5 linked regions of the Homo sapiens genome follow. The protein of the gene in region 1 purifies or fractionates together with the protein of each later gene. This does not show direct contact. Each region holds a gene or a part of one and is shown on either strand. Other genes may lie near its edges. The genes, in order: EXOG, ZER1, MAGEA10, ECD and FEZ1.

What was found.
Region 2: the proteins of EXOG (region 1) and ZER1 purify together in Homo sapiens (affinity purification with mass spectrometry; one large-scale study listed by BioGRID and IntAct). This does not show direct contact.
Region 3: the proteins of EXOG (region 1) and MAGEA10 purify together in Homo sapiens (co-immunoprecipitation; one large-scale study listed by IntAct). This does not show direct contact.
Region 4: the proteins of EXOG (region 1) and ECD purify together in Homo sapiens (co-immunoprecipitation; one large-scale study listed by IntAct). This does not show direct contact.
Region 5: the proteins of EXOG (region 1) and FEZ1 purify together in Homo sapiens (co-immunoprecipitation; one large-scale study listed by IntAct). This does not show direct contact.

Annotation. Positions count from the first base shown.
Region 1 is NC_000003.12:38,508,439-38,515,059, forward strand, and holds part of EXOG (nuclease EXOG, mitochondrial isoform 1 precursor), read left to right. Parts: intron 1-5,311; exon of another isoform or gene 5,312-5,430; intron 5,431-6,621. UniProt on the Homo sapiens protein: Endo/exonuclease with nicking activity towards supercoiled DNA, a preference for single-stranded DNA and 5'-3' exonuclease activity.
Region 2 is NC_000009.12:128,748,894-128,755,514, forward strand, and holds part of ZER1 (protein zer-1 homolog), read right to left. Parts: coding exon 6,515-6,621; intron 5,067-6,514; coding exon 4,916-5,066; intron 4,708-4,915; coding exon 4,271-4,707; intron 3,957-4,270; coding exon 3,780-3,956; intron 2,635-3,779; coding exon 2,520-2,634; intron 2,376-2,519; coding exon 2,229-2,375; intron 1,897-2,228; coding exon 1,723-1,896; intron 569-1,722; exon of another isoform or gene 465-568; intron 1-464. UniProt on the Homo sapiens protein: Serves as substrate adapter subunit in the E3 ubiquitin ligase complex ZYG11B-CUL2-Elongin BC. Acts to target substrates bearing N-terminal degrons for proteasomal degradation with the first four residues of substrates being the key recognition elements.
Region 3 is NC_000023.11:152,131,055-152,136,943, forward strand, and holds the end of MAGEA10 (melanoma-associated antigen 10), read right to left. Parts: 5' UTR 5,817-5,889; intron 5,027-5,816; exon of another isoform or gene 4,936-5,026; intron 4,781-4,935; 5' UTR 4,707-4,780; intron 4,632-4,706; 5' UTR 4,567-4,631; coding exon 3,457-4,566; 3' UTR 2,256-3,456; downstream 1-2,255. UniProt on the Homo sapiens protein: Not known, though may play a role in embryonal development and tumor transformation or aspects of tumor progression.
Region 4 is NC_000010.11:73,135,809-73,142,429, forward strand, and holds part of ECD (protein ecdysoneless homolog), read right to left. Parts: intron 5,678-6,621; coding exon of another isoform or gene 5,579-5,677; intron 3,930-5,578; coding exon 3,823-3,929; intron 3,688-3,822; coding exon 3,501-3,687; intron 2,263-3,500; coding exon 2,195-2,262; intron 1,111-2,194; coding exon 896-1,110; intron 1-895. UniProt on the Homo sapiens protein: Regulator of p53/TP53 stability and function. Inhibits MDM2-mediated degradation of p53/TP53 possibly by cooperating in part with TXNIP. May be involved transcriptional regulation. In vitro has intrinsic transactivation activity enhanced by EP300.
Region 5 is NC_000011.10:125,489,509-125,493,406, reverse strand, and holds part of FEZ1 (fasciculation and elongation protein zeta-1), read left to right. Parts: intron 1-3,584; 5' UTR 3,585-3,629; coding exon 3,630-3,898. UniProt on the Homo sapiens protein: May be involved in axonal outgrowth as component of the network of molecules that regulate cellular morphology and axon guidance machinery.

The sequences.
Region 1 (6,621 bases):
ATATCCTGAGGATTCTTCCAAGAGGGTGGCTGAAATGTTATACTATACTGTGAGGCTTACAGAGGGCAGGGAACAGGTGGAGTGAAGCAGAAGAGGTGGTAGAGTGAGTAAAAAGAAGCACTGAAGGACTTGCTAATAAGGCCAAAGAGGAGGGGAGGGAACACCTAGCTCAGCTCTGGAAATAAAGTAGATATTTAATAAATGCTGGTTAGGTAAATGATTACTTAAGTCTGTGATAAAATTTAATAACCTGAGGAACAGATTGAGGAACCACCCCCCCCCCAAAAAAAAACCAAAACTTTTAGAGTATATTCTGTCCATTTGACTTGCTTATTATCAGCCTGTCTAGATCAGATGTGCAGTAATGTCCAAGCATCCAAGGATTTGTATAGGTCCATATGAATAGCCCACTTTCTCTTTTTCCACACAAAATTATGACCCAACTACTTCTTTTTGTTAAGTGGAAATGATAGAGTAGTTGTTTTCAAGGATTTGTACATCCTTGGAAAATTCCAGTAGATATGGGAGTGAAGGAAGTCAAAGGAATTAGTATTTTAAAATTAATTCATTTAATATCTCTCCTCCCATATTAATTTCTCTCCTCTGATTAACTTGCTAATTTAATTTTAGTATATTTTATAGTCTTAGGAGAAAAAAAGGCTTAAAGCCCCCTGTATTATTTTTCAAATATTAATTATTCTTGGTCTTTGTTAAATCCTGTTTATTTTATGTCAGAAAAGAGGCTCTTCTAGCTTTGACTTGTATATCTTAAATGGTTAAATTACAGTTTTATTTGTGCTTTGTTTTTATAAAATTGAAAAATTTATATCACTAGCCTACTGTGTAGTAGAACAAAAATTTGTACAATGTTTAAAACGAAAAATTAACCAATAATTACAAGCATTTCACTACATAGATTTTTGTGTGGCTATTTCTGTAAAATATGTGTTGCCCAAATGCCGTAGTGGAAAATGTATTGTTTTTCTTAAGTTGGATATAATTTTTAAAAATAGAACTGATAAAAATATATCTTCTAGTTGTTTCTGCTGAAAAGGCCCAGAAGAATTGGTATGTCATTAGCAATGAACACATCTTGAGACCCAGATATTTGTTTCTAAAAAGCATCTCCTGAAAAGACTCAGCGCTTAGAGAAATGACTGATTTAAGGGGTGGTACAGGGAGAGTACAAAATGGAACATCATATATCAGAAAGCCAAGGAAGTGCTCAGACAAATGGTGGGGATATGTCAGAAGGACATGTGAATCAGCTTGAAGGAGCTCCCACTTACTGTATCTGGTGCTATTGAATATCAAAATAAAATGGATTATAAACCTATTGAATTAAATAAGAATACATACTCAATAAATATGTAAATACATAGGGTGTAAAGAAAAGCTTCTGCATACCATAGAATGTCAGTTAATAAATTTGCGAGAATGAAAGAGTTATACAAATCATTTTGCACACATCACCATAATTGATTCAGGCAAGAGTCATCACTAGCTAAAACTAGTGAGTGAATGTTTTATGAGGAATAGGGTATTTACATAATCTAAAAGTATCTCCTCATACATTATTTATTAATCACAAAGTAAGAAATAACTTTACAGTGAAGAAACATCCCATTACCCAAGTGATCAAGTTTAGTATTGCTAGTAATGGGACTTAGTGAAACGCTGTACTCCTGGTGTGATGCACTGAGCAGGATAAAATATCAGGCATACCCCAATTGAGAGACATTCTGTGAAACAGCTGACTTCTACTTTACAAAAGTGTTAGTGTCATAAAAGACAAAGGCTGAGAAACTATCTGTTCCAGATTAATAGATTAAAGAGTCATGCAAACAAAATGTGTAGTATGATCTTAGATTAGATCCTAGACCAGAAAAAAGTTGCTAAAAAGGATGTTATTGGGAGAATTGGCAACATTCGAGGTCTGTTATCTAATATACAAATTAGATAATTGTGTATTTTCAGTATTAAATTTCCTGATTTTTAAAATTGTTCTGTGATATGTAAGTAAATATCTTTGCTCTTAGGAAGTCATATCCTGAAGTGTTTAGGAGTAAAATGGTGTGCCTGTGACTTTTAAAAAGTTTAGGGAAAAGAGAAGAGAGTGATAAAGCAAATAGAACAAAATGTTAACAATTGGTAAATCTGAGTGAAGGATATAAAGGAAGGAGTTCTTTGTGCTGTTCTTACAAATGCTAAGCTTTTAATTAATTCAGAATTTTAAAATTATATATTAAATATTATATAGATATTTAAATAAAATATTAAAAGATATATTAAAATAGTTTATCAGTGAAATGATACTCAAACATGTTCAAGCTAGCCTTAAAGAGTTTCAAAAGAGACCTATCAGCTCTCCTCACCCTAGTTAGTGTCATAATGATCAGTCATGTGAGGTCAGTCAAGATCAGCTTCCTGAAGAGTATACTTTGAGTAATAGTCTTGTTTCTTGTTTTTATTTTAAAGACTTGCTGGTCTTAGGTATTCTCTTTCAGATTCTGGGCTTCTAAGGTCATATCATTAGTTTTCCATGTCTCTTATTAATTTATAGGACCTATGCATGTTCACACTGGCAAATCTTTAATTCAGTAAGTCATCCGTTCAGCAAATTTTCAAGTACCTGTCATGTGGGAGGAAGGTATACAGAATTGTAAATGGCATGCTCCAAACTTATATTCTTGATTACTTTCTTCCTCTCCTGTATTTCACATCCTGGCAGTCATCTCTCACTCTTAATTACTTTGAACCAACAACTTTTATTAATTCTCTTTTTTTAAAATAACTTTTACTTAGACATACCGAAGCTCTGAACACCTGCAGTATTGCAGAGGCCTCTAATGGGTTTCTCTGCCTCCAATTGCGTTGGCTACCAGTCTATCTGGAGTACAGAAACCATGACAGAGAAAGTATACGTTGTTACTTTCCTAATCCTCGGAACCATAAAAAAAGGAATAACATTAAAAGAACAGAAAAGGAAACTTCATTTATACTGAAATTAGGGAATGTTCACAGTCCTGTATCAAGGAATTTTTCAAATAATATCTGCAAGATAAAGTGAAATTTGGACCAAATTATAAAGGATGTTAATTTGACATGTCTCCTCTTATCAAAGCATGGGACAGGGTACTAGAATTAGTAAGGAAGTTCAGACCTACCGGTAGTAGACCACAGGAGAAATTTCTGGTGTTTAACTTGGAGCTTATCCCTTTATCTTGCAATAGTAGGAAAGGCAGGGTGGTTATAGTTGTTAAAAGCACATATTTCATGTCAGATCTGGCCTTGGATCTTTGCTTTGATACTTACTTGCATGTGGTCCTGGGAAAATGACCTAACTTCTTTAAAGTTCAGTTTTATCTGTGATATTTGGATAGTAGTAGTGTTTACCTCACCGAGTTGCTAGTATCATCGTTAGCTTGGTAGTTAGCACATAGGAAATGTTCAGTAAATATTAGCTACTATTACTCCTTTGGAGGCTAACATAAGAATGAAGACCAGTGTTTTTTGTATTCTTTGGTGCATGTACTCATAAACCTATGATTTCTAAGATTCTTTTTTACTTCTCCTTTCTTATCTACAGAAGCCCAAAAGTCAGGTGCCTCTTTATTAATTTTAAAGCACAATTTTTGTAGTCTTCTAAGTCGATGCTTTTGAGTTCATGAGTTCATGTTATGTTAGGAGTTGTGAAATTAGATACTTACATTAAACACGGTTTAGTCTTGATGCTTTTTTTTCGCTCATGGCATTAAAGTCATAACTGGCAAACTATCTTTCCTTGAAATTAAACTTGAAAAATTTTTAAATTATGCAATTATATGTGCATAATGATAAAAATGCTAAATCTTAAAACATGATTGTGGAAATATATGACATTGTAATGAAATTCAAACAGTACAAAGCAGCATGAAAAGGTAAAGTCTCACTTATACTCCTTATCCCACTGTCCAGTTTTTATTTGTTTTGGCACTTATTTCTATATCTCAGAATAATGAGCACTAAAATATATTTTTAACTTGTGACCTGTCGCTTATTAACAGTTACTTTATCTCTATAAAATTATGAAATTTATTGTTTATTTCTTGCACTGCACTATACTCTGCTAGTCATATATACTTAATTTTAGTTCTTCCGTTGGTAAACTTTGCATCATATACTTTACATAATATACTTGAACCTCTAATCTTGATCTACCATTTATACTTGTCAAGGTTTGTAGCATTTACATTTATGTTTGCTAACGATAATGTAGTCTGAGTTTTGCCTGTAGCAGAGTTTGTAAACTGAGGCCTCTTATGGCAAGTCCAGCCCATAGAGGTATTTTATTTGGCTCACATGGTATATATATATATATTTTTAAGTTTTTCATAGAGATAGGGTCTTGCTCTGTCTGCTAGGCTGGAGTGCAGTGACAAGATCGTAGCTCACTGTAACCTTTATCTTCTGGGCTTTCGAGATCTTCCCACTTCAGCCTACCAAGTAGCTACGACTACAGGCATGCACCACCATGCCCAGCTAATTTTTAAGTTTCTTTTTTGTAGAGGTGGGGGTCTCACTATGTTGCCCCAGCTGGCCTTAAATTCCTGGCCTCAAGTAGTCCTCCCACCTCCACCCCTCAAAGGGCTGGAATTAAAGGCGTGAGCCACCACACCTGACTGTATGTTATTTTTTAATTAGTTTATAATGTTTAATAATTGGGAGATTTCACATAAATCCAGATTTTAGCTTCTCTTAAATCAGATGACTCCGTAACAATTGGCATATACTCCCATAGGCAGCCAGTTTACTAGACAAGAGTATCAACCTTCTCCTTAGATTGAACACACATCTTCAAATCACTGTAGTCTTTACCTGCCCCATTTTACTCACTTACATTTCCTGTCTAGCCCTTGTTGGTCTTTGAGTTTGTAATCCAAGATCTATTAGAAAATATTTAACCAGCATTTATATTATTATAAGTGTGTATGTAGTATGTTTGGACCTATAAGGAAATAGATATAATTCTATATCATTAAATCTGTGCCACTTGAGAGAGAAATATTACCACAAACAACGGAAAAACAGAAGTGGAAGGTAAGGGTGGCAGTGTATTATAATTGCTCTTTTTAAAAATACTTTCTAATTCAGATAATTTAGGTCATTTAAGCATATTATCATATGATTTTTTAAAAAGGTAAATTAGTTTTTTCGTGAAAATATATTCTTGGAGCCCTCTGACTTTCTGTTTTAATTTGGATTACTTGTTTCCTCCCTCCTTCCCTTTCTCCTTCATTCCCTTTCTTCTTTCCTTCCTTTTATTCAACAGAGACTTAACTAAGCTTTTACTAGGTACCTGGTGCTGTTCTGGGTGCTTCTGATACAGCATTAAACAAGGCAGAAAAGAGTACCCTCATGGAGCATGCATTATAGTGGAGGAGATACCTAGTAAGTAAAATGCCTCGTAGAAATATAAAGCACGGTAGAGGATTGTATTAGGGTGGGAAAGAAAGACAAGGGGAAGTGAGATAGGGCAGAAGCCTAAGTGAAGTGAGGGAGCAAGCCATATGAACAGTTTTTCGGCTAGAGCGAGTGCAAGACACGGGTGAAACTGAGGTTGGCACATTCAAGGAGCAGTGCTCTGCTCAGTGTGACTAGAGCAGCGTAAGCATGAGGAGGAGAAGAAGGTAAATTATAGAGGGAGGCAATGGCAGGAAATGTGGATTGTATTAAGTGAGATGGGACACTTAAACAGTGTTTTGATCAGGTTAGTAGCATAATCTGGTTTACATTTTTAAAGCACACACTGGCTTCTTGTGAAGAACAGAAGAAAGTGTGGAACCTGGAAGGCCAGTTAAGAGACTAATGGAATTGTCTACATGAGAAATAATAACTTGAATAGGATGGTGGTGGTAGAAATGGTGAGAAGTGGTATGATTTAAGATGTGCTTGGAAGTGGTCAGCACACTGATGATGTTGAAAGCTATGATGAGATTATATAAGTGAATATAGACAGGAGAGAACAATCAATTGAATTCTGAACCCTGGAGCACTTGGACATTAGCGGTCAGGAAGAAGAAGATCCAGCGAAAGAGTCAGAGGAGCAGCCTTTAAGGTAGGAGAAATCTAGGGGAGAGTGATGTTCCAGAAGCTAAGTGAAGAAATCATTTAAAGGAGGGAATGATGAGTTGAGAACTGACTGTTTGCAATCCCAGTAAGCTTTTTTAGTTTTAAGTCATCTATATATCTGTCCTTCTGTTTCTCCTTATTATACTCCTAGCTTGGGTCCTTAAATTCCTCTTTCCCCTTAAATATTATCTTAAATCCCTCTTTTCCACCCTCCCCCCCCTCCCCCTGCTTTTTTTTTTGAGACGGAGTTTTACGGTGTCCCCCAGGCTGGAGTGCAGTGGTGCGATCTTGGCTCACCGCAGCCTCCACCTCCCAGGTTCAAGCAATTCTTCTGCCTCAGCCTCCTGAATAGCTGGTATTACAGGCACCTGCCACCACATTTGGCTAATTTTTTATATTTTTAGTAGAGACAGGGTTTCACCATGTTGGCCAGGCTGGTCTTGAACTCCTGACTGCAAGTGATCCGCCTGCCTTAGCCTCCCAAAGTGCTGGGATTACAGGCATGAGTCA
Region 2 (6,621 bases), on another chromosome or scaffold:
GATGGGGTTTCGCCATGTTGGCCAGGCTGGTCTCAAACTCCTGACCTCATGATCTGCCTGCCTCAGCCTCCCAAAGTGCTGGGATTACAGGCGTGAGCCACCACGCCCAGCCTGAGACCCTGTCTTAATTAAAATATATATATATATATTGTGGCTGAGCACGGTGGCTCACGCCTGTAATCCCAGCACTTTGGGAGGCCGAGGCAGGTGGATCACCTGAGCTCAGGAGTTCGAGACCAGCCTGGCCAACATGGCGAAACCCTGTCTCTACTAAAAATACAAATATTAGCCTGGCATGGTGGCACGTGCCTGTAGTCCCAGCCACTAGGGGGGCTGAGGCAGGAGGATCACTTGAACTCAGGAGGCAGAGATTGCAGTGAGCCAAGATTGTGCACTGCACTCCAGCCTGGGCGACAGAGTAAGACTCCATCTCGAAAAAATAAATAAATAAAAATTATTGTTTGATCCTTTCGTAGTTTATAAGAGTGATGATTAGGTCTTCATGCTCATGTGTGAAATGTGCCTCCCTCAAACCATGTTAGGACGTTGGCATATTGCCCATCTGAAATGAAAAAAAGTTTTTGTTATATAAATATGTTGGCTGGGTGTGGTGGCACATGCTTGTAATCCCAGCACTTTGGGAGGCTGAGGCAGGTGGATCACCTGAGGTCAGGAGTTCAACACCAGACTGACCAACATGGCAAAACCCCGTCTCTACTAAAAATACATAAATTAGGCAGGTGTGGTGGCATGCACCTGTAGTCCCAGCTACTTGGGAGGCTGAGGCAGGAGAATCACTTGAACCCGCCACTGCTCTCCAGCTTGGGCAACAGAGCAAGACTCCATCTGAAAAAAAAATTTGTTGGCTGGCCAGGCGCAGTGGCTCACATCTGTAATCCCAGCACTTTGGGAGGCTGAGGCAGGTGGATCACCTGAGGTCAGGAGTTCGAGACCAGCCTGACCAATATGGTAAAATCCCATCTTTACTAAAAATACAAAATTAGCCGGGCATGGTGGCGCATGCCTGTAATCCCAGCTACTCGGGAGGCTGAGACAGGAGAATCACTTGAACCCGGGAGGTGGAAGTTGCAGTGACCCGAGATTGTGCCATTGCACTCCAGCCTGGGCAATAAGAGTGAAACTCCATCTCAAAAAAGAAAAAAATTGTTGGCGGATAAGGGAGATGTTCATATTCATGTGACAACACAGTTGAAGTAAAAATCCACCATATACAAACAGTATGCAGTTTGTGTATCCCATTTACAAAATATGTGTGCATAGGCTAAAATTCACAATTGATATCCCATGTTAATGGTGCCTGTCTCTGGGTAGTGGGTTTATGGGTGATTTTTATTTTCTGTATATCTGTAATTATAACTTTTCTATAATAAAGGCTTTTATTACTTTTATATTAAAAGCAGCTGTTGGTAAGAAATCCCCCAGCAGAGTGTATGGGCAGAAGGGCTGAGGAGACGGCACAGGCAGGGAGAAGGGCAGGGTCCCTGGGCCCCCACCCCCACATGGGGCAGGGAGGAGGATGGAGGGCAGCCAGGAGTGATGGACTGTGGGAAGGGCCAGGTCCCAAGAGTCAGGGAGTGCTGCTGTGGGAAAGGGAGCTGGGACAGATGCAGCCCAGAGCCGGGGGAGCCCTAGCGGGACGCAAGAAGCAGGAAAGGGGTGGCTGGGCCAGAGCATGCGGGGCCGTGGCGGGTGGGGGCTCACCGTCACCTCCTGGTAGGATTCCATGCCATTCAGCACCACCTGGATAACCTGCCGGCGCAGCTTCACACTCTGCTCTGAGCGGTACTCGGAATTTGTTAGGTAGAAGAGAGCGGCGCTGCCTGTCACTTGAATGTTCCTGTCATATTTGTGGCACTTGAGGGCCGTGATGACCAGCTGTATGAAGACAAGGGGGACCTGGGCTGGCAAGTGCAGGGAGAGGCCTGGGCTCTGCAAGGGGCTGGAACAGGCTCTCTGGGGCAAGGTTTAGCCTGGTCTTGCTCTCTAAAGGCAGAAGTGGGGCCTGGGGAGCAGACACCAGGGTGGGGACCAAACAAGGCCAGTGCTGAAGCAAGTCAAGTGCTGTGAGGCCCAGGCTGGGGTTCGGGTCCTGGGGCCCTGGGGACAGGGTGCAGAAGGACACAGGCTCTGGGGACACGGCTCAGCCAAGCCCGGCAACCTCCAGGTGGGGAGGGACAGGAGGCCAAGGCCCCAGGCTTGGAGCTGACCTTCAGGGCCCGCAGCAGCTGGTTGCAACGCTCGATGCGGGCGATGTCAAAAAGCAAGTTGATGGCCCGCGAGGTGATCTCAGGCCGGTGCTCCGTGTAGGCCTCGATGGCATTCAGCACCTGCTCTTCGTTTTTGTCACCACTTACCTGCGGGTGGGACACGCTCAGAACAACCCAGCAGAGGCCAAGGGCTGGGATGCCAGATCCCAGCTCAGTCTCCAGCCCCAGAATCCAGCTCCTTCTCTCTCCCAAGGCTCCCTGGCCCAGACCCATCCCACTTCCACTGCTCACTTTGTAGGCTGGAATGTGCGTGAGGCGGCACAGAGAGTTCTCAAAGAGCCCGAGGAACTGCAGCGGCCTCTTCAGAGCCCGGAAAGGTATGATGCTGCTCTTGGAAGGCTCAATGCTGGGGAAAGAGGGTGCCGGTGTCAGTGGCTTGGGACCCAGGCCTGAGCTGGGCCTCCCCACTGGGGGTGGTGAGGCATTTCCTTGCTTTCTCTTCTAGGCCCTCCAACCTCATCCCCTACTCCTTTTGTTTTTAATGGTAGGGGACATAAGCACCACCTCCTGATGGAAGCATGGCAAAGCCACATAGTAGGGGAACACATAGGATGGGCAATGCAGCCACCTTTAGAAACCACCTGCCATTCTAGTAAGGACATGGCACCTTTAGGTCTCACCAACAATCACAAAGGGACAAGCTCAACTGAACACCATTAAAGCAGGCTGGGGCCAGGGCTTATGGGTGGCCAGTTACAGCTGGTAGGGTTTGGTCAAACTTCTCAACCAACCAATCCAAGAACCGACCTATGTCCAGCAATACTCCATAGGTGGCAGACACTGCCAGCCTTGCCTCTTCCCCCCATGGCACTGTGCTCTGGTCAGGCTGAGTGTTGGGTAGTTCCCCTGTCGCTCCTCATGCTCTCACCTACTGGCCTTTGCAGGTGCTGTTCCCTCTGCTAGAACACGCTTCCTCTGGCAGAGGCAGAATGAGCTTTCAGGACAGCCAGGATGCGTCCCTCCTCCTCCTTCCTTCCTGATCCTCAGGCCACACCGGGGCCCTGGATTGCCCCTACCATAGCCCTTGTAATGACTTGATTGTCCCCACCAGCTCACACAGCCTCCAAGAGGGCAGGACCTGATTTGTTTCTTTATCTCTAGCACCCAGCACAGCACTTGGCAGAGGGGTACTTGGCAAATACTTTCTTTTTTTTTTTTTTTGAGACAAAGTCCCACTTTGTTGCCTAGGCTGGAGTGCAGTGGCGCGATCTCAGCTCACTGCAGGCTCCGCCTCCCGGCTTCAATTCTCATACCTTAGCCTCCCAAGTAGCTGGGACTACAGGTGTCTGCCACCATGTCCAGCTAAATTTTGTATTTTTAGTAGAAATGGGGTTTCACCATGTTGGCCAGGCTGGTCTCTAACTCCTGGCCTCAAGTGATCCGCCCATCTTGGCTTCCCAAAGTGCTGGGATTACAGGCGTGAGCCACTGCGCCAGCCTAAATGCCTGTTGAATGACACCCTACCAGTAGCCATGGAGGCTGGGGCCCCACCTGGTCTGCCCCGCTTCCTCTTCCATCTTGGAGATGCTGCAGTTCTCTAGGATCATGTGGCCAGAGATGTCCAGGGACATTAGGTTCCCCAGCTTCTGCACAAAGAGGCTCAGCACCTCCCGAGTCAGCTTGAACTTGTAGTAGCTGGAGAGGCGGTCTCGGGAGATGTCCAGGTGTCTGAAGATTGGGGTAGGGGGTGCAGGTTAGGAGCTGGGTACAGGGTGGGGCTGCCTTGCAGATCCCAGCTCCTTTAGTCTGTAGCAGGGGAGGGCCCATTCCTGCCACAACTTCCCCAGGGCATTCTGGGAAGAAACCCCAAACAGCCCCAATCCAGCTGAAACACTGGGTTTAAGGAATGGGACTGTGTCTTCATCCCCACCCTCTGCCTAGCCAAGCGCTCCTGAACCCTGAGGGCGTGACAACACCCACCTCTACTCCTCCCCACCTGCCCCCCAAACCCCACCCTGGTGAGCTCTGGGCCAGGAGCTCACCGCAGCTTGTGCAGCTGCACGATGACCCGGATGTGGTCGTCGGACAGGTCCATGTTGTAGAGGACGAGGGACACCAGGCTGTCTTTCCACTGGGTGAGGAAGGCGGCGTCGCTCGTCTGAATGCCTGAGAGGTCCAAGGCAGCCAGGGAGTTAAGCGGCCGCAGCAGGGACTCCACAGGGACCCAATCAATCATGCGGCCCAAGTTGAGGAAGCGGAGGCGGCTGAAGCCCTCGAAGGTGAAATCCTTAACCAGCACCTGGCAGGTGGGGTTGACGAGGTACTCATCTTCACAGCCCCCTGGGTTCTCCTCCTCATAGAAAATGTTTGTACAGCCGAAGAGGCTCAAGGACACCAGGGTGTGGCTGAAGCTCCTCAGTGTCTGCAGGCTCTTGGCGGACAGCTTCTCGCAGTTAGTCAGGTACAGCTCCACCAGGTCCTGGGAGTGGGCACAGCTCCATCATCATCACCACCCTTGCCCCTTCCCCCGGCCCCAGGCCTTGCCCTGGGCTACAGGTGGGTTGGAAAGGGGGATGTGCACAGTCACGGTGCACACTGGCTGGGCTGGGGATGGCTGGGCTGGAGGCGAGCAGCCTGGCCCCTGCTTGGTGTGGGCCCTCCTGGCGCTGTGGCGGGGCAGGTCTCACCTGCTTGCGGATGGCCTCCAGGTCCTGGTCCTGCACCAGGTCCTCACGGAGGTGGATCCGCGTGAGGCGGGTGCTGCGGGGGTCCGAAAAGAGGCTGAAGAAGCTCTCGTGTGGCTCGAAGTTACAGGCAGCGTTCACCAGCTCCACATACCTGGGAGAGAAAAAAGCCTGGCTCAGGAGAGGGCCACAGGGACTCTCATCCTCGCTTCAAAGCCAAGCCCTCCTCCCCCTGAAGCTTTCTTGGATCACCCCAAGTAGCAACCTCCTTCTCCTAAGAGTATCTGGTCAGATCCTGACTAAACTACCAGTAAGATTAAGGGTGCCCAGGAACCAGGAATCTAAAGGCAGCTCTCTGGGAGACCTTCTAGGTGATGCAGGCGCCATCTCTCCCAGTGCACATGCCTGTCACACAGCCTCCACGCACGCACACTGCAGGGGCAGCAGCCCCACTGGCATGGCCACTCTCGTCACCTTCTTTAAGCCCCTCCTGCGACCCTTTTAAACAGGCAAACTAAGCCAAGTAGTTCAGAGTTCCCAGCTGGGTACAGGACAAGCCCTTAATGAAGCCCTGTTGAGACATCAGCTCATGCAAGAATCCTGGTCTGCTGGGAAATGCTTTGGATTCAAACGCTTTAGACTCTAAATCTTGGCTTGGCTGCTTCCTACCTGGGCAACTTCACACAAGTAAATGAACTTTCCCAGACCTCAGTTTCTTCATCTGTAAAGTGGATATAACTATGGCCTGCAAAGTGTCCAACCTAAAGCCTGACCCACGGTAAATGCTCAGGACGTTATTACAGGTCCACCTCTGTCCTCAGGCCCACACAGGCTTCTAGTTTCCTATGCAGCTGTCTAATAATTTCCCTTCTGGGAATCTTTTTCTTTTTTTTTTTTTGGTAGAGACAAGGTCTCGCTATGTCACCCAGGCTGATCTTGAATTTCTGGTCTCAAGTGATCCTCCTGTCTTGGCTTCCCAAAATGCTGGAATTACACGTGTGAGCCACCATGCCTGGCCACCATCTGGGCCTGTAGATTGAACTCCCAGCATTCAGTGACTGCATAGCATGCTTCTAGGAGCCCCTAGGAGTGGGGAGGCCCTCGGAGGGCCATTCAGATTTTCTGGATGATTCACTCCCTGATCATGGATCCGTTATTCTGGCACCGGCATGTACATGCATATGTGGCCATGCTCACTGAATTCACAAGCACAGGTATGTGCATGTGAATGTACATACACGTGTGGGGCAACACTTAATTCCTTCATTTATATGCAGATTTTGACACAATCACATCTCTAAATGCACACATGCAGTTTCACAGTCAGAAATAACCTGTGCTGCATAAGCTTACATGTGTACACACACCCATGCCTTCACGTGCACACCCCTCCACACACACACCAACACACACACATATACACCTTTACGGTTATGGATACACCACTATTCTCTTGCAGCCATGAACATCCATGTGCACACACACACACCCTCACACATTCATCTCCATAGCTACTCCCCACATAGTGCACACACGGTCCCAATCTCTCTATACACATTCATGGTAAGACCCCTGCCCCTCCTCAGCCCTGGGTCTGCTCACTCATTGACGAGCCGGTCACAGATCTCGCTGGGCAAGAAGATGTCCGGATGTAGCCGCAGGGTCTCCTTGTCCAGCAGGTAGCCCAGGGTGCCATCCAGGTTGCGCAA
Region 3 (5,889 bases), on another chromosome or scaffold:
AGCCCTGGGATGCTGGCAAGGGTGCACAGGACCACTGGAGTGGTCAAGAGAGGTAGCTCACCCAGAATGATGCAGGGAGCCAGCCATACTCTTCCTGACAGAGGGAGGGGAATCTTGAATGAGCATAAGGTGTCCAACATGCCGCTGATGCATTCAGCCAACAGGCCTGCCCATTCAGATCACACAGCCACATCCTGTTGATGATGATAGTGTCCAGATTTCTCAAGCCTATCCCTGTTTGTTGCCGTGTCCTCCTTCACCACTTCCCACTTCTCTCCCTCAGGTCTCTGCCCCCACCGGGCTGAAATCTGGATTCAGAGCTCTCAGTGGCAGCCTGCCTGGGGCTCTGTGGACTTGATTTCACATGTGGTCTCTCTCGTGGACTCTGGTAATTGCTCTTCCCTGCATCCTCCTAATGCCCCTTGCCAGCCGAGGGTGTCCTGTCTGCTCTCCTTCCCCGGCTCCTGACTAAATCCTTTGAAAGCAGAGGAGAAGTTGAAAGGCCCTTTCAACATAAATTTCTACATAAATTTGACTTTGGGCACTGATATTTAGACATCTGCTATAAGAGAGATTTCCAGGAATGGGACAGAACACTCAGAGTACTTCTGCAGAGTGTAGGCATGCTCTGTGTCACAGGGTGAGCAGGCGATTCTAGGCTTCTCTACTGTGTTCTGGGCACAGCCTTTAGCAGAGACCACAGTGACAAGCTAGGCAGCAATCCAAGTTCCAGATTTGGGTAGGAGGGAACACTGGGGACAACCAGGGGAAGGGTGCTGTAATGTGGGGAAGTGCTGGCTCTGAACAGAAATGCCAGCTCCTGGGTACAGTCAGCTCTCAAGGAACCCTGGGGATTGACACAGTAGGTCCCTGGATTAATAAGGTCCACAGGCCACCCTGAAATGGTGTTTGATTCTCATTGTCACCTTCTCTAGGCCTACGACTGCTACCTTGGCCTCAGAGTCCCTATTTTTGTCACCTGAGAGACATGGTACAGTGCTGAGAAGAGAAATGAAGTACTATTCAAGAGGTCGGCCTCAGGCTGGGAGGAGTGGGAACAGCATGGGCTCTACAGGAATTCAGACCCACCAGGAGTCTGGTTCCAGCCCTATTCCTTACTAGCCATGTGATTCTGGGAAATGCCCAAGTCCTGTGAGCCTTGGGTTCTTTATCTGTGAAGCAGGTGTGATAAGCCCTGTCCATTAGGACTACTGGAGTGTGTGCAATATAAGTGAAGAACCTGGCTCAGGGCCTGGCATAGTTAGAAGTTTAATGAATGGCAGATGGCTGTTATTTCTAATATTATTTGACCTCAGACCCCACCACAGTCTTCTCTGGAATTTTTGTCATTGTTATCCAGTACATCTCAGAATATGCAGCTCAGTGGAACATGGAATCCCAAATCAGTCACAAATGTTGCTTCACATATAAAACTCAGTAAATTTTCCCTCTTAGAGGATATATTTTCAACATTTCATGTGCAGGAGTTTCTCCCTGCTGGATGCTGCTCAAAGTTCATGGAATTTGAGTCAAGTATCAACTCCTTCCCTCTCTCCAAGGTTCTTTTCCATCCAAATCATGATTTTCATTCATTTCATCACCACTCAAAATCTAGCCCTTGCTTAGTGTTGTTCAAATTACACTAAAAATAACCCAATTAAAATGTTTCTCTAATGGAGTCAGCTAACTTCTAGGCATCAATTCATAGGCTTATTTATTATGAGATCCTTATCTCTCAGGAGACCCTTGCATATGATGGGTATCTATCACCTAGTTATTTTTTTAATTTAATTAGGAGTTCAACTGCACTGAGACAAGAGTGCAGAACACCTTCCATTCCTGCCCCAGGTGGACTCCTCTCTGTTCATCCACCACCCAAAAGGAACTGCTCAGAGCAGTTTTACATCCCAGGATTTGCTCTGTCAACTATGTGAGGCTCTGACCCTGGCACCACCCAGCTTCTTTGGATTCATCTTCACCAGAAGGAACTGCAGTTTCTCAAAGCCCCAAAAGTCCTGGCTCAGAGGATGTACGTGACCACTCTCACCTACAGCCCAATACCCTCACCCCGTCTTACTTTTCTTCTGGGTCTTAGAGGACATCTTGCCACCTTGTTACTTGACTGCAGCCCCTAGACTCTACCACCCTATGGGTAAAGGTGGTTCTGGCTTAACATTTCCACTACAGACCCAGGGCCTTCCACAGACCAGATGCTCAGTGGATGTTTGGGGAAAAAATGCACTAGTGAGCAAAGGTTTCATTTATTACAGTTTAATTTCGACTTAACAAGATCCAGGGATATAACTTTTAATTTTGCAGGATGATAAACTAAAAATAATAAAGAAATAAAAATACTAACACTTAAAATTATTTTCTCTATTTTACTATTTTTTTCATATTTCCAAGAAAATTACTATTCCAATTCCATGTTATTTTATTACAGATTACAAATATGATGGAAGGGTTCCCAATTTGTTTTACAAAATAGCAAAACTGTTTCTTAAACTGGATAAACAGAAACGAACGTGTGACCTTAGATTCTGAAGCTCATAAACATTCTAGTAAAAGTAACAACATTTTAAAATACCAAGAAGAGGCTGGGTGCAGTGGCTCACACCTGTTATCCCAGCACTTTGGGAGGCTGAGGCGGGCAGATTACCTGAGGTCAGGAGTTTGAGACCAGCCTGGCCAACATGGTGAAACCCCATCTCTACTAAAAAATACAAAATTAGCCGGGTATGGTGGTGCACACTTGTAATCCCAGCTACTCAGGAGACTGAGGCAGGAGAATCGCTTGAACCCAGGAGGCGGAAGTTGCAGTGAGCCGAGACTGCACCACTGCACTCCTGCCAGAGCAATAGAGTGAGACTTTGTTAAAAAAAAAAAAAGAAGAAGAAGAAAAAGAAAATAAAATACCAAGAAGAAAAGAAAAGAAGTCCCCAGGTTATCCAAAGAAAACAGTAAGACAAAGATGTTATGCACTGTATTTTCCTCAGCCTCAGCCTGGCCCTCCACCACATACATCATTGATTTCCATTCTCATTTGTTTTCATAAATTAAAAAAAAACAAAAACATAAACAAAAACTGACATGTAATTGTAGATATTTATGAGGTACAATTTGATGTTCTGATTCATGTATATGTAGTATAATGATCAAATCAGGTAGTGTATCCATCACCTCATGCATTTATCATTTCTTTTTGGTGACAATATTGAAAAGCCTTCCTTCTAGCTGTTTTGTAATATACAATATCTTAATGTTAACTATAGTCATCCTACTGTGCAATAGAACACTAGAACTTATTCCTCCTATTTAATTGTAATGTAACTACTGCTCTACTCTCTACTTCCATGATACCAACTTTTTTTTTTTTTTTTTTTAGATTCCACATATGAGTAAAATCATGTGGTATTTGACTTGCCTTTTAAAACACAGTGAAGAATCTGTCTTACTTTATTCAGGGTAGGAGAAGCTACCTGTAGCGCTAGAACTTGCACTGGCCATGGCAGTAGTATCATCTGTGGTGGCAATTCTGTCCTGGGCTCTCTCTTCCTCATCTTTCAAAGCCTCCTCATACCACAGTGGGAAGGATCTTGGATCACTCCCATTTACCTTGGCCAAAAATTTCAGGAGACTCATCTTCCTAATTTCAGCATGAGCCCTTGGACCCCACAGAAACTCATACCGTGCAGGATCACTGCCAGGCACCTGCCGGTACTCCAGGTAGTTTTCCTGCACCCAATCTTGGGTGAGCAGCTTCCTGGGCTCCCCATAAATGAGGTGCTCCATCCCATCATACAGCCCCATCATATTCAGTGCTTCCCAGATGACCTCCTCAGGGGTGCAGTAGCCCTCTATGAAGACTATGCTTAGGATAAGTATGAGAATGCCAGTCTTGGGCATGCTCTGGACATCACTCAGCATCCCATCATAGGTGAGGCCCAGGGAGGTGACAAGGACAAAGGAGTGGCCAGTGGGATCCACTTCCTTTACATCAATGCCAAAGACCAGCAGCATGCACTCGGAGGCTTCACTAAACAACAAAGGGAAGTGGTCTTCATAATTTCTTATGACACTCTCCAGTATTTCTGCCTTTGTGATCGGCTCCTTCATTTGATACTTGAAGAGCAGAAACTGCACCAAATCAGTCACCTTTTCATCTATCTCACTTCTGGGTAAAGACTCACTGTCTGGCAGGACCTGTAGGGTGCTTGGACTCTCCTCCTTTTGGCTGCTGGAGCCCTCATCAGATTGATCTAATGGAAGGGAAGCAACGACCGAGGGGGAGGAGCAGGCTATCTGAGCACTCTGGGGAGGATTTGGTGTCTCATCATCAGCAGAAACCTCCTCTGGGGTGCTTGGTATTAGAGGATAGCAGGAGGAGGAGGAGGAAGAGGAGGAGGAGGGAAAAGAGGATGGAAAAGAGGAGCTGGTGGAAGTGGATGATGAAGCATCCTCCTCCACAGCCAGGGGAGCCTGTGCACCCTCGAGGCCCTGTGTCTCACTTTGGGATTGAAGATCTTCTTCAGGCATGCAGCGCTGACGCTTTGGAGCTCGAGGCATGATGACTCTGATCAGGGTAGCAGGTGGGAGTGTGGGCAGGACTTGGGCGATGGGGACCCACAGGCCTGGGGAGAGAGGGAGGGTGTAAGTGGCCACAGCTGAGAACCACACCCTGGAGGTTCTAACAAAGGCCAACTTACAGGTCTTCTCCTTCAGTGCTGCTCTGTGGTGTCCCACAGCTCTTGACCTCTTGCTCTCCCTGTCCCCTGAGAACCTGAAGAAGGAAGTGAGAGATGGCTCCTCAGGATGCAGCCGGCAGAGGCCAAGGCTCCAGGACTGACAGTAGGGTAGGTGGAGCTGATGCAGTGGGGTCCACTTTGTCCTGGAGCAGGTGGGGCCCTTGGTACACATTCAGGGCATGCACCTCACCTTGACTCCTGGCACTGTCTGGGCCCTTTCTGCTCTGTGACCTGAAAACACTGCCTTAGACCAAGGCCTCACCTCACAGTCCCTGGAGCTCCTGAAAGAGGAATTGAGGGGCCCTCAGGGTTCAGGCTGCAAGCACAGCCCCAGCCTCCCAGTGTTGTCAGGAGGGTGGGCTGGACTCTGTGAGTTCCCCACTACCCTGGGGTGGGGAGCCTCTGTGCTCACGTGGGGCTCTCACCTTTCTCCTGGAAAAGCCTAGACCCTGCTCCTTTGCTGGTCTAAGAAACTCTCAGATCAAAAGCTTACATCCCTGATACGAAATAGAAGACATGAGGGGACCCACATCTGGCCACAACTGCAGAGGTCCTCCCAGAAAAGACAGCAAGAGGTGGCCATATTCAGCTGGGTCCATGTGTACTGGGGTGAGGAGCCTGCTTGGTCCTCTTCTTGATGCCTGATACGACCTGGGACCCTCCCTTTGTTGATCTGAGGCCACTTCCTTAAACCAAGGTCCTACCTCCAGGAGACATGGAAAGAGGAAGTGAGGGGAGTCCATCTACCCCCAGTTCCCCATGAATTCCCGTGGCTGACAGAAGGGGTAGGGTGGGGCTGAGTCCTGTGCGTTTGGAGAATGGTGTCCCCTCAGTCCTCACCTTGACTCCTGGCAGGGTCTGGGACCCTCCCTCTGCTGACCCGAGTGCAGCTCCCTTAGACCAACACCTCTCCCTCCCAGAGACCAGTGATCCTTGTATAAGACAGGGAGACTCAGCGGACAGCCCTGACTGGGTTCTCCAGAGTGACAGTAGGGTCATGGCAGATTTCTGTGGGGACCCCATCTGTGTTATGGGCTGGGGGTACCCTCAGATTTCCCTCAGGTTCCTTACCTGGACTCTTGTCAGATCCTGCGACCCACTGTGTCTGTAGAAAAGAGGGGTTCCCTGTGTTGACTTGAGTCAC
Region 4 (6,621 bases), on another chromosome or scaffold:
TCAGAATCTATGTTGTAACATGATCTTTTGGTTTATATTCGCATTAAAATTTAAGAAATACTGCTTTAGATAAATCTAATGTATGGTTTCTACTAGATTTTGACAATTCTGGAAGTGACTATAGTTTTAAAAGTGGTTTAGATGATCAAAGCAAGGAGAATTAACATTAATTAAAGGCCTATTGTAGGTTTTACTGCTGTCTAATTTGGTTCTCATGTTAATTTTATGATATGAGGATTACTGGTTTATAGATACATTCACAGTGGACAGCTGAGCTAGACTTCAAACCCTAACCCATAAGACTCCAGGGTTCTTGCTCTTTCCATAATACCTCTGTTTAGGATTAGACAGTGGTGGCATTAAAAACTAGGATGAAAACATAAACGGAAGGTGAATCCTAAATTTGGCTCTAAATTAGGGAAAAATACAAAATAAACTGTTAAAACTGGAAAGTTATTTGAATGTTTAAGATCCTGTTTATTTACTTATGTTATTTTGTTTTAATCCACTGTGGCCCAAGGCATAGTCTCAAAAGGTCTTGAGAACATGTGCCCTCTCTTTTTTAAAATCCATTTAAGCTGTAGTTTTTTTAAACTACTTTTGAAAAAAAATGTATTTAAGAAGTAGTAGTGTACAATCGCATTCTAATTTGAGCATATTATATGACTTTTTATTTTAAATCCTGATAGATAACGTAGAATAAGTAATATAATGAAGCTTATGTTTTGGAAAATTAAGTCTATGATCCTTTATCCTACCAGAGTTAGGAAAACAATTAACATTCTTATTTATTTCAAATCTCACACACCAAAAAAAGAAAAACTATGATAAAATATGGTTTTAGCTATCTGACATACTAGACTCAGAAAGAGAAAGAGGTTAAAAACACACATACCACTTGGTTCCTAGTGGTGAAACTTTTGCTGATGCAGGTGTGTGCTAGTTCCTGGTCCATCTGGGCCATGTATGACTTGAGATTATCAAGTGTTCCTTTCAGGGAAGCCTCTTCGCCAGGTTCGTGTGTTTCAAAGTCCAAGTCATCATCACTATCTAAACATTCAAAGTCTTCATCATCCAGATCATCAGAATCTGACTCATTAGGCCTTGGCCCTACACAGATCCCAAGAAAGAAAGAGCCACTTAGTAATTATTATTATTATTATTATTATTATTATTATTTAGTTACTACACATCTCAAAATAATTAGAATGTTACCCACAGAAAAAGACTAATACACACAGTCAGTCTACTTCACAAAAATCCCTTCTACAAATGGTAATGCTGGCAGATATGTGTGCATTTAATGTTGTGGAAAAGCGTACAAGCTGAATCAAAAGATTTAGCTTAAAAAAAAGTGAATTCAATTAATTAAAATATTTTTCTTAAAAAATTTTTAAAAATACCTAATAAATGAATACATTTTGATGTAAACATTCAAGCCATACAAGTATTGTCTCCAATCTCACTCTCTCCCCAGAGGTAAGCATCTTTTAGCAGTTTCCGGGTATCCCAATCTTTCTCTCTGCAGTTCTGTACATATATACATATTATAATTATTTTTTGAGTTATCTTTTTATTACTGATTTGTAAGTACAGTAATTCCAAAAAAGAACAATATAATATGGGAGCCAAGGTAAAACCCTATTTAAACACACAGCATTCAGTCACTCTCAAATATTTAATGAGGCCGGGCACGGTGGCTCACGCCTGTAATCCCAGCACTTTGGTAGGCTGAGATGGGCGGATCATGAGGTCAGGAGATCGAGACCATCCTGGCTAACACGGTGAAACCCCGTCTCTACTAAAAATACAAAAAAATTAGCTGGGTGTGGTGGCAGGCGCCTGTAGTCCCAGTTACTCAGGAGGCTGAGGCAGAAGAATGGCATGAACCCAGGAGGCGGAGCTTGCAGTGAGCCGAGATCGTGCCACTGCACTCCAGCCTGGGCAACAGAGCGAGACACTGTCTCAAAAAAAAAAAAAAAAAATTAATGAGCAGCTACTATATATGTCAAACACTAAGCTAGGCAGCCTCTACAAAATTATTCATGGGTAGTAATTCATGGTTGAAAGCAACTCAAACCAGGAAGAGAAAGCAAACATTTTGGCTTCTGAGATATCTCATAAACCAATGCTCTAGCAACAGCCATACTACTAACAGTTTCAAAATGAAAGTCAACATCACACCACTACTTACCTAAAATCTTATCAAAATAATTAAGAAAAGAATCTGCATCAAAAGTGATTGGAGCCTCAGAAGGTTCTCTGCAATATTAAAGGACAAAGACAATTAATTTATTCTAAATACAACTCTTTGAAACTTTTCTAAAGTGGTGCCATTCTTAGGAAAGCTACCAAAGATAGAATTTCTAAGGAGGCACAGCAAGAAAAGTTGTAGTTTAAGTTTTAAAAATCCTTGAGTTTACTGGCCTTGCAGGACAACAGAAATGGGAAAGTCTGATAAATGAAAAGTAAAAATTGCATCTTGTTTATGTACATTTAGCTTATGCTGATTTAGGGACCTACCCACTCTCTAGCCCCAATAAGATATCTAGCATTAGCAAAACCATTATTTATTTGAGTTAATTTAAATAAAGCCTGTTCTTTTAAGAACTAAAGCTTAAAAAATAAACAAGAACATATCTTCCCTTATCCCTGCTTTCTTAAAGAGAGAATACCAAATATAAATTTATATCTTTCATCAGGTTCAAGAGCATCAACACTAATAATGATATATTTGATACACAAGTAACAGTTTTTTTTGTTTTGTTTTTTTTTTGAGACGGAGTCTTGCTCTGTCACCCAGGCTGCGGTGCAGTGGCACGATCCCAGCTCACTGCAACCTCTGCCTTCCGGGGTCAAGCGATTCTCCTGCCTCAGCCTTTCAAGTAGCTGGGATTATAGGCGTGCGCCACCATACCCGGCTAATTTTTGTATTTTTAGTAGAGATAGGGTTTCACCATGCTGGCCAGGCTGGTTTTGAACTCCTGACTTCGTGATCTGCCTGCCTCGGTCTCCCAAAGTACTGGGATTACAGGCATGAGCCACCGCGCCCAGCCTACAAGTAATAATTCTATCTACCTGTTTTTCCTGTTATTTGCCAAATGTAGTTTCATATTTCTGTTATTATTTCTGCCTCTGATGAATTCCTTTTTCAGTATCCAATCTGCTTGCAGGGTGGGAGATCAGAGGTCTGAACTTGTTGAAAGTTAAATGTTGAGCCCATAAAGCTACTAAAGAGTAAAGTATATGGTTTCCCTGTGTGGTTCTGGATGATGGTTTTTAGGGTGATCTTTCTGGCTTATTTCAAGGATTGCAAAGGATGAGGCTTCTAGAAATCTGACTTCAAATAAGTAAGTTATCACTATACTAGGCACAAAAAAGAAAGCAAGCAGTACAACTCATTTACTCAAAAAAAAAAAAAAAAAGTGGAAATGGCAATGACTATGACTTCAACATTTGGGTTCTAGCTATTTATATATTTATACTTTAACACAAATTACCGAGGCAGCTCTGCTCCCTTGTGGGTTGAGACTTTGGATATGAAAGCTTTCATGCTCTCTGAGACTTCAGTTAAGTCATAGTTCTGCTCCTTCTCCTCCTTGGAAACAGACTCGGATTCTTTTTTGCCAACAGCTTCCTGCAGCAGCTGGTCCAGCTGATCTGGTGAGAGATCTAACCACTGGTCATCTGAAAAAGAAGAAAGCATAATACTGCCATTCTACATTCACATAAGTCCTCTTAGGAGAGGATCCTGTGAGACTGAGTAGAACATTTTAATTTTTTTTTTTTAACCCTTCCACTGTATCCTGGTCCATCACTTACCATCCTCTGGGGGAAGATTAGCTGCTTCTTTCTTAAGGTCTTCTATATCAAATGGTATTGTCTGTAATAAGGTTAAGATTTCTTCACCAGGGCTCATAGCAAGAGAACTATGAAAAATAAAAAACATGAGTATTTCTTCATAAGAGAACATAGAATAGTAATCATAAATACATAGTATTTTAAGGTTGGAAGGGATTAGCTAGTCTAATTTGGGGAGTGTTTTTTTTTTTTTTTTTTAAGAGATGGGGTTTCATTGTTGCCCAGAATGGACTCGAACTCCTGGGTTCAAATGATCCTCCCACTTCATCCTCCCAAGTAGCCAGCACTACAAGTACATGCCAAAACACCTGGCTCTAATTTGTTTGTTTGTTTTTAACAGAGTTTCACTCTGTCGCCCAGGCTGGTGTGCAGTGGCGCGACCTCGGCTCACCACAACCTCCGCCTCCCAGGTTGAAGAGATTCTCCTGCCTCAACCTCCCAAGTAGCTGAGACTACAGGCATGCGCCACCACACCCAGCTAATTTTTGTATTTTTAGTAAAGATGGGGTTTCACCATATTGGCCAGGTTGGTCTCGAACTCCTGACCTCATAATCCCCCTGCCTTGGCCTCCCAAAGTGCTGGGATTACAGACATGAGCCACCGCACCCAGCCTTCTAATTTGTTTTTAAGCATATTTTTAGGTTGCAGATCCCTTTTTCTCAAACAAAACTTTTACCAGGAACTCTAAAATACAGAAGGGGTCAAAGAAAAATGGCCTTCATTAAAGTGGAGGATAGGCCAGGCACAGTGGCTCATGCCTGTAATCCCAGCACTTTGGGAGGCCAAGGCGGGGAGATCACTTGAGGTCAGGAGTTCACTTGGCCAACATGGTGAAACCCCGTCTCTACTAAAAATACAAAAATTAGCTGGGCATTGTGGCACGTGCCTGTAATCCCAGCTACTCGGGAGGCTGAGGCAGGAGAATTGCTTGAACCCGGGAGGTGGAGGTTGCAGTGAGCTGCCCCAGCATGGGCGACTGAGCAAGACTCCATCTCAATAAATAAATAAAATAAAATAAAATAAAAATAAATAAATTGGAGGATAGAAGCTCAGAGATCTACACAATTGGCCTTCCTTTTTGGCTCTGAAGCAGGCTCCATGGAACATCATTATGAAGCCACTGATCTCGTATAATTCTTTCTATACATACATGCAGAGACAGGGTCTCTCTCTATATATGTATATATATGTACATACAGTTGTATTATGTTAATAGTACATATACATATAAAACACGTACTAAAAATACATAAAAATATACATATAATATATATTTTATATACGAGGAAAAGAAGATCCAGAAGGAAAGCATCAATTAAAATTTATCTAGCATGTATTAAATGCTATGCTAACACTTTAAATACATTTTCTTATTGAGTCCTTTTGTTACTATTATAGAAGGTAATAATCCTGTTTTACAGATGAGAAAACCAGAACCCAGGGAAGTTCTTTAACTTTTGCAAAGTCTGTATTACCCAGGAGGCGGAGGTTGCAGTGAGCCAGGATTGTGCCATTGCACTCCAGGCTGGGCGACAAGAGCGAGACTCCGTTGGCCGGGTGCGGTGGCTCACGCCTGTAATCCCAGCACTTTGGGAGGCCAAGGCGGGCGGATCACGAGGTCAGGAGATCGAGACCATCCTGGCTAACACAGTGAAACCCCGTCTCTACTAAAAAAAAAAAAAAAAAAAAAAATTAGCTGGGCGTGGTGGTGGGTACCTGTTGTCCCAGGTACTCAGGAGGCTGAGGCAGATGAATGGCGTGAACCCAGGAGGTGGAGCTTGCAGTAAGCCAGGATCGCGCCACTGCACCTCCAACCTGGGCACAGAGCAAGACTCCGTCTCAAAAAAAAAAGAGACTCCATAAAAAGAAAAAAAATCCTCATTCTTTAAGACTTAACTCAAATACCTCCTCCCTGAAGCCTTCCATTATCTTTCTTTTTTTAACATCTCTGCTTCAACCTTAGTGAAAGTTTATTACCTTCTCACTATGACTCTCTTTAGCATTTGATATTCCAGAATGATTTTTATTTTGCCTTTTGTTATGATTATTTGGTTTATTCTCTCTCCTAGTAACGTTTACATATTAATAATACAGAGTAGAGACAGTTCCCCATCACCTACGTGATTTTGCAAGGTATGCAAATGTTTATCCAATTAAAGCAAGTCCTTTATACAACTTGATTTGATCCATTCTTAATAGTTCAGACAGGGTGCCATCAATTTATGTAACAAATCATGTCACCATTATGTCACTCACTCAACACATAAGTATCTCTGTGCATAGTTTCTTTTTTTTCTTTTTCTAAGACAGGGTCTCACTCTGTCGCCTAGGCTAGAGTGCGTGGCATGATCACAGCTCACTGCAGCCTTGACTCTTGGGATCAAGCAATCTTCCTATCTCAGCAAGTAGCTGGGATTACAGGCATTAGCCACTGTGCCTGGCTATTTATTTATTTTTAATTTGAGTAGCTGGGATTACAGGTGCCCACCACCTCATCCGGCTAATTTTTTGTATTTGTAGTAGAGATGGGGTTTCACCATGTTGGCCAGGTTGGTCTCAAACTCCTGACCTCAGGTGATTCACCCATCTCGGTCTCCCAAAGTGCTGGGATTACAGGTGTGAGCCACTGTGCCCGGCCTATTTGTTTATTTTTAATTGACAAAAAAGTGTATAGGTTTATCATGTACCTTAAAAATATTGTAGAGATGTAATCCCAGCACTTTGGGAGGCTGAGGAGGGCAGATCACAGGTCAGGAGAT
Region 5 (3,898 bases), on another chromosome or scaffold:
CTTTCTTTCTTTCTTTCTTTCTTTCTTTCTTTCTTTCTTTCTTTTCTCTCTTTCTTTCTTTCTTTCTTTCTTGAGATGGAGTTTCGCTCTTGTTGCCCAGGCTGGAGTGCAATGGCATGATCTCGGCTCACTGCAACCTCTGCCTCTTGGGCTCAAGCGATTCTCCTGCCTCAGCCTCCCAAGTAGCTGGGATTACAGGCACCTGCCACCATGCTCAGCTAATTTTTTTTTTTTGTATTTTTAGTAGAGACAGGGTTTTGCCATGTTGGCCAGGCTGGTCTTGAACTCCTGACCTCAGGTGATCCACGCACCTCAGCCTCCCAAAGTGCTGGGATTACAGGCATGAGCCACTGTGCCCAGCCCCCACATCACATTTCTATGTAAGTTAGCTATCCTGGTTTTCCTAGAATTATTTTTAACTTTTTTTTTTTTTTTTTTAAAGATAGGGTCTCACTTTGTCACCCAGGCTGGCATACAGTAGTGTGATCATAGCTCACTATAGCCTCAAACTCATGGGCTCAACCAATCCTCCTGCCTCAGCCTCTCCAGTTGCTGGGATTACAGGTGTGAGCCACCGTGCCCAGCTTTGATTTTTCTAGAATGATTGATATTTATTGGATGCTTTCTATATTCTGCACATTGTACTTAACACTTCAAAGATGATCTCATTTAGTCCAAAAAGTAATCTTCAAGGGAAGCACTGTTTTAAACTCCATTTTATAGATGATGAAATTGAGGCACAGTGAGGTTGATAACTTGCCCAAAGTCTCCCAACTAGGAGTGACAGGACCAGGACAGGAACCCAAAGCCTATGCTCTTAGCCATCACAGAGTACTGCCTTAATCAACACAAATCCCTGGGCTGTGAAAACTGTTTTACTCTCTACTGCATTCTGCCATCTTTTCTAATCTCACTTTTTTGTTGCTCAGGGATTCTTAATCTTTTTTGCACTATGACCTCCTTTGGTGGTATGGAGAAGCCTGTGGGCTCCTTCTCCAAATAATGTTTTTAAATGCATAAAATAAAATACTTAGTCTTGTAAAGGAAACCAATTTCATTGAAATATAGTTACCTTCAAAGAGCCTGCAGGGGTCTATGTACTGAAGATGAAGAACCCCTGACTGGCAATTACTTGTGTTTGCTTTAGAGCTGTGTTGTCCCTTGCGGTAGCCACAGGCCACATTTGACTGTTGAGCACTTGCAATGTGGCTAGTCCAAAGTGAGATGTACTGTAAATGGAAAATATACACTGGATTTCAAAGGGCTTAGTATAAAAAAAGAATAAAAACTGCCTCATTAGTTTTTTTGTGGATTACATTTTGAAATGGTAACACTTTGGATATATTGGATTAAATAAACATATTACTTCAATCAAAATGATTAATTAAATTATTGATTTATTAAAAATAACTCCTAAAGATGTTAACTCTGTACCAACACCTTCCTTATAACAAATGAGGAAATCAGGACCAATGATGCTTGTCACTCAGCCAGCCATTGGCAGATCTGTTGGCTCTCGAGCCTGTCTTCTTTCCAAGATATGGTACTACTTGTATATATTTTTGTATTCAAAGGTCCTATCATGTTGCCTTTGCAAACTGTAAATGCTCCAAATATGTTTTAAAGCAACGGTAATCAACTTAATCCCAGCAAAATCCCGGTACAAACTGGCAGTGTTCTTGCCTGGCATGTCCTTTGCCTTGCTTATTTAGAGTTTTAGTTTTGTAGGTAGAGATGGAGAATGGGCACTCCTAGGGCAAAATCCATGAATTTTGCTGTCTGGTTCCCCTCAGGAAGCGCCTCCAATTTGAGCACCTAACTATATCAATAACCCTATAGACCGAAGAGAAAAGCTTGGTAGCCTTTCTGTTGAGCGTGTAGAGAAGGGTATGATAGTCAGCAATGCTTGTGCTGCCTGAAACTGAAAATGGAAAACTGTATGTGGGAGATAGATCATTTTTTCAACGAGCACATATTGATTGACTGCCTAGCCACAGGGTAGGCAGTGTATATTTGGAGCCAGGGAAGATATCCAGAGGATTTCTGTGTCCTCGAGGAATTTAAGTTAAAATTGAATGGGGCCCAGATGTACACACAGATGGATAAATCACAGTTGGAAGCAGTGCATGAAGATGGCCCGATGAGGGGTAGAGGTCCCACAGTTGGTGGGAACTGAAGGGAGTTCTGTGTGTGCAGCGTTCCAGGGTGCAGTGCCCAAGATGGTTATGGAGTATGGCTTTGGAGCACATGGGTAGTTGGGTCTGTTTCTTACAGGATACAGGATAATAGATCATTTAGTCTATTCCTCTGCTCCTAGGCATATGCTCTATGTGTGGGAAAACCTTGGGTGCTTGTCTGGGCACGGTGGCTCATGCCTGTAATCCCAGAACTTTGGGAGGCTGAGGCAGGTAGATCACCTGAGGTCAGGAGTTCGAGACCAGCCTGGCCAACATGGTGAAACCCCATCTCTACTAATAATACAAAAATTAGCTGGGTGTGGTGGCACACGCAGCTACTTGGGAGGCCAAGGCATGAGGATTGGTGGAACCCAGAGGTGTAGGTTGCAGTGAGCTGAGATCACACCACTGCACTCCAGCCTGGGCCACAGAGTGAAGCTATGTCTCAAAAGCGAAACGAAACAAAAACAACTCAGGCATTTATTGGAAGGTCTCTATTGATGTTTTATTAGTTTTTTTAAAAAAATAAAAATAGAGATGGGACCTTACTATGTTGCCCAGGCTGGTCTTGAACTCCTGAGTGAGCTCAAATGATCCTCCCACCTCAACCTCCCAAAGTGCTGGGATTACAAGCATGAGCCACCACATCCAGCCAATGTTTTATTAGTTTCTACTATTTATTGATAAGGGTAGTAATATCTAGGTATACAAACCCTTATCCAAAACCCCTGGGGCCAGGCATTTGGAATTCAGATTATTTCAGATTTTGGAAAGTAGTAATAGAGTGTACATTCCGCATTTCATCCAGTGGGATCTGGGATAGCAATCTTTGTAATTAAAAAGTTAATATTTCTGCAGCAAAACACACAAAATGGGATAAATTAAAGCCATGAACAGCTTTATATTCATGTTGGTCATGTTTAGTTGCCAGATGAGTTTAGATCATGTCACATTTTGCTGCCAAACAAGTCATGGAGAATTTTCAGCTTTCAGATCACATAGTTAAGGATATGGATCTGTGGTAATAGTAATAGTAATAAAAATAATAATACTAAAACACCAACAGAAAGTATTCAATAATATTGGCACTTATTATCTTCCAGGTACTGTTTTAAGCACTCACCTGTGTTTACTCCTTTAGTCTTCTAACAGCCCTTTGAGGTGGGTTCAGTATTATATCTGTCTTGAGAAGAATAAGAAGCACAGAGCAATTAATCACTTGCCCAAGGTCACAGCTGGTAGGACAGAACAGAATGCAAACCTAGACGATCTTGTCCAGGAGCTTCGTACTTAACCAGTGCCTTGTTTTTTGGAGTAGGGAATTGGAAGCAGGTGTGTCTCTAAAGTTAACTCTATTATTTAGATTAGCCTGGTCTAAACTCACATTACGCTGTTCATTTCTTTTAGATAAACTCATCCTGAAAGTCGCTGTTGTTCTCCTGCTGAGCAAGAATGGAGGCCCCACTGGTGAGTCTGGATGAAGAGTTTGAGGACCTTCGACCCTCCTGCTCGGAGGACCCGGAGGAGAAGCCCCAGTGTTTCTATGGTTCATCTCCCCACCATCTCGAGGACCCCTCCCTCTCCGAGCTTGAGAATTTTTCTTCCGAAATAATCAGCTTCAAGTCCATGGAGGACCTCGTAAATGAATTTGATGAGAAGCTCAATGTCTGCTTTCGGAACTACAACGCCAAGACCGAGAACCTAGCTCCCGTGAAGAACCA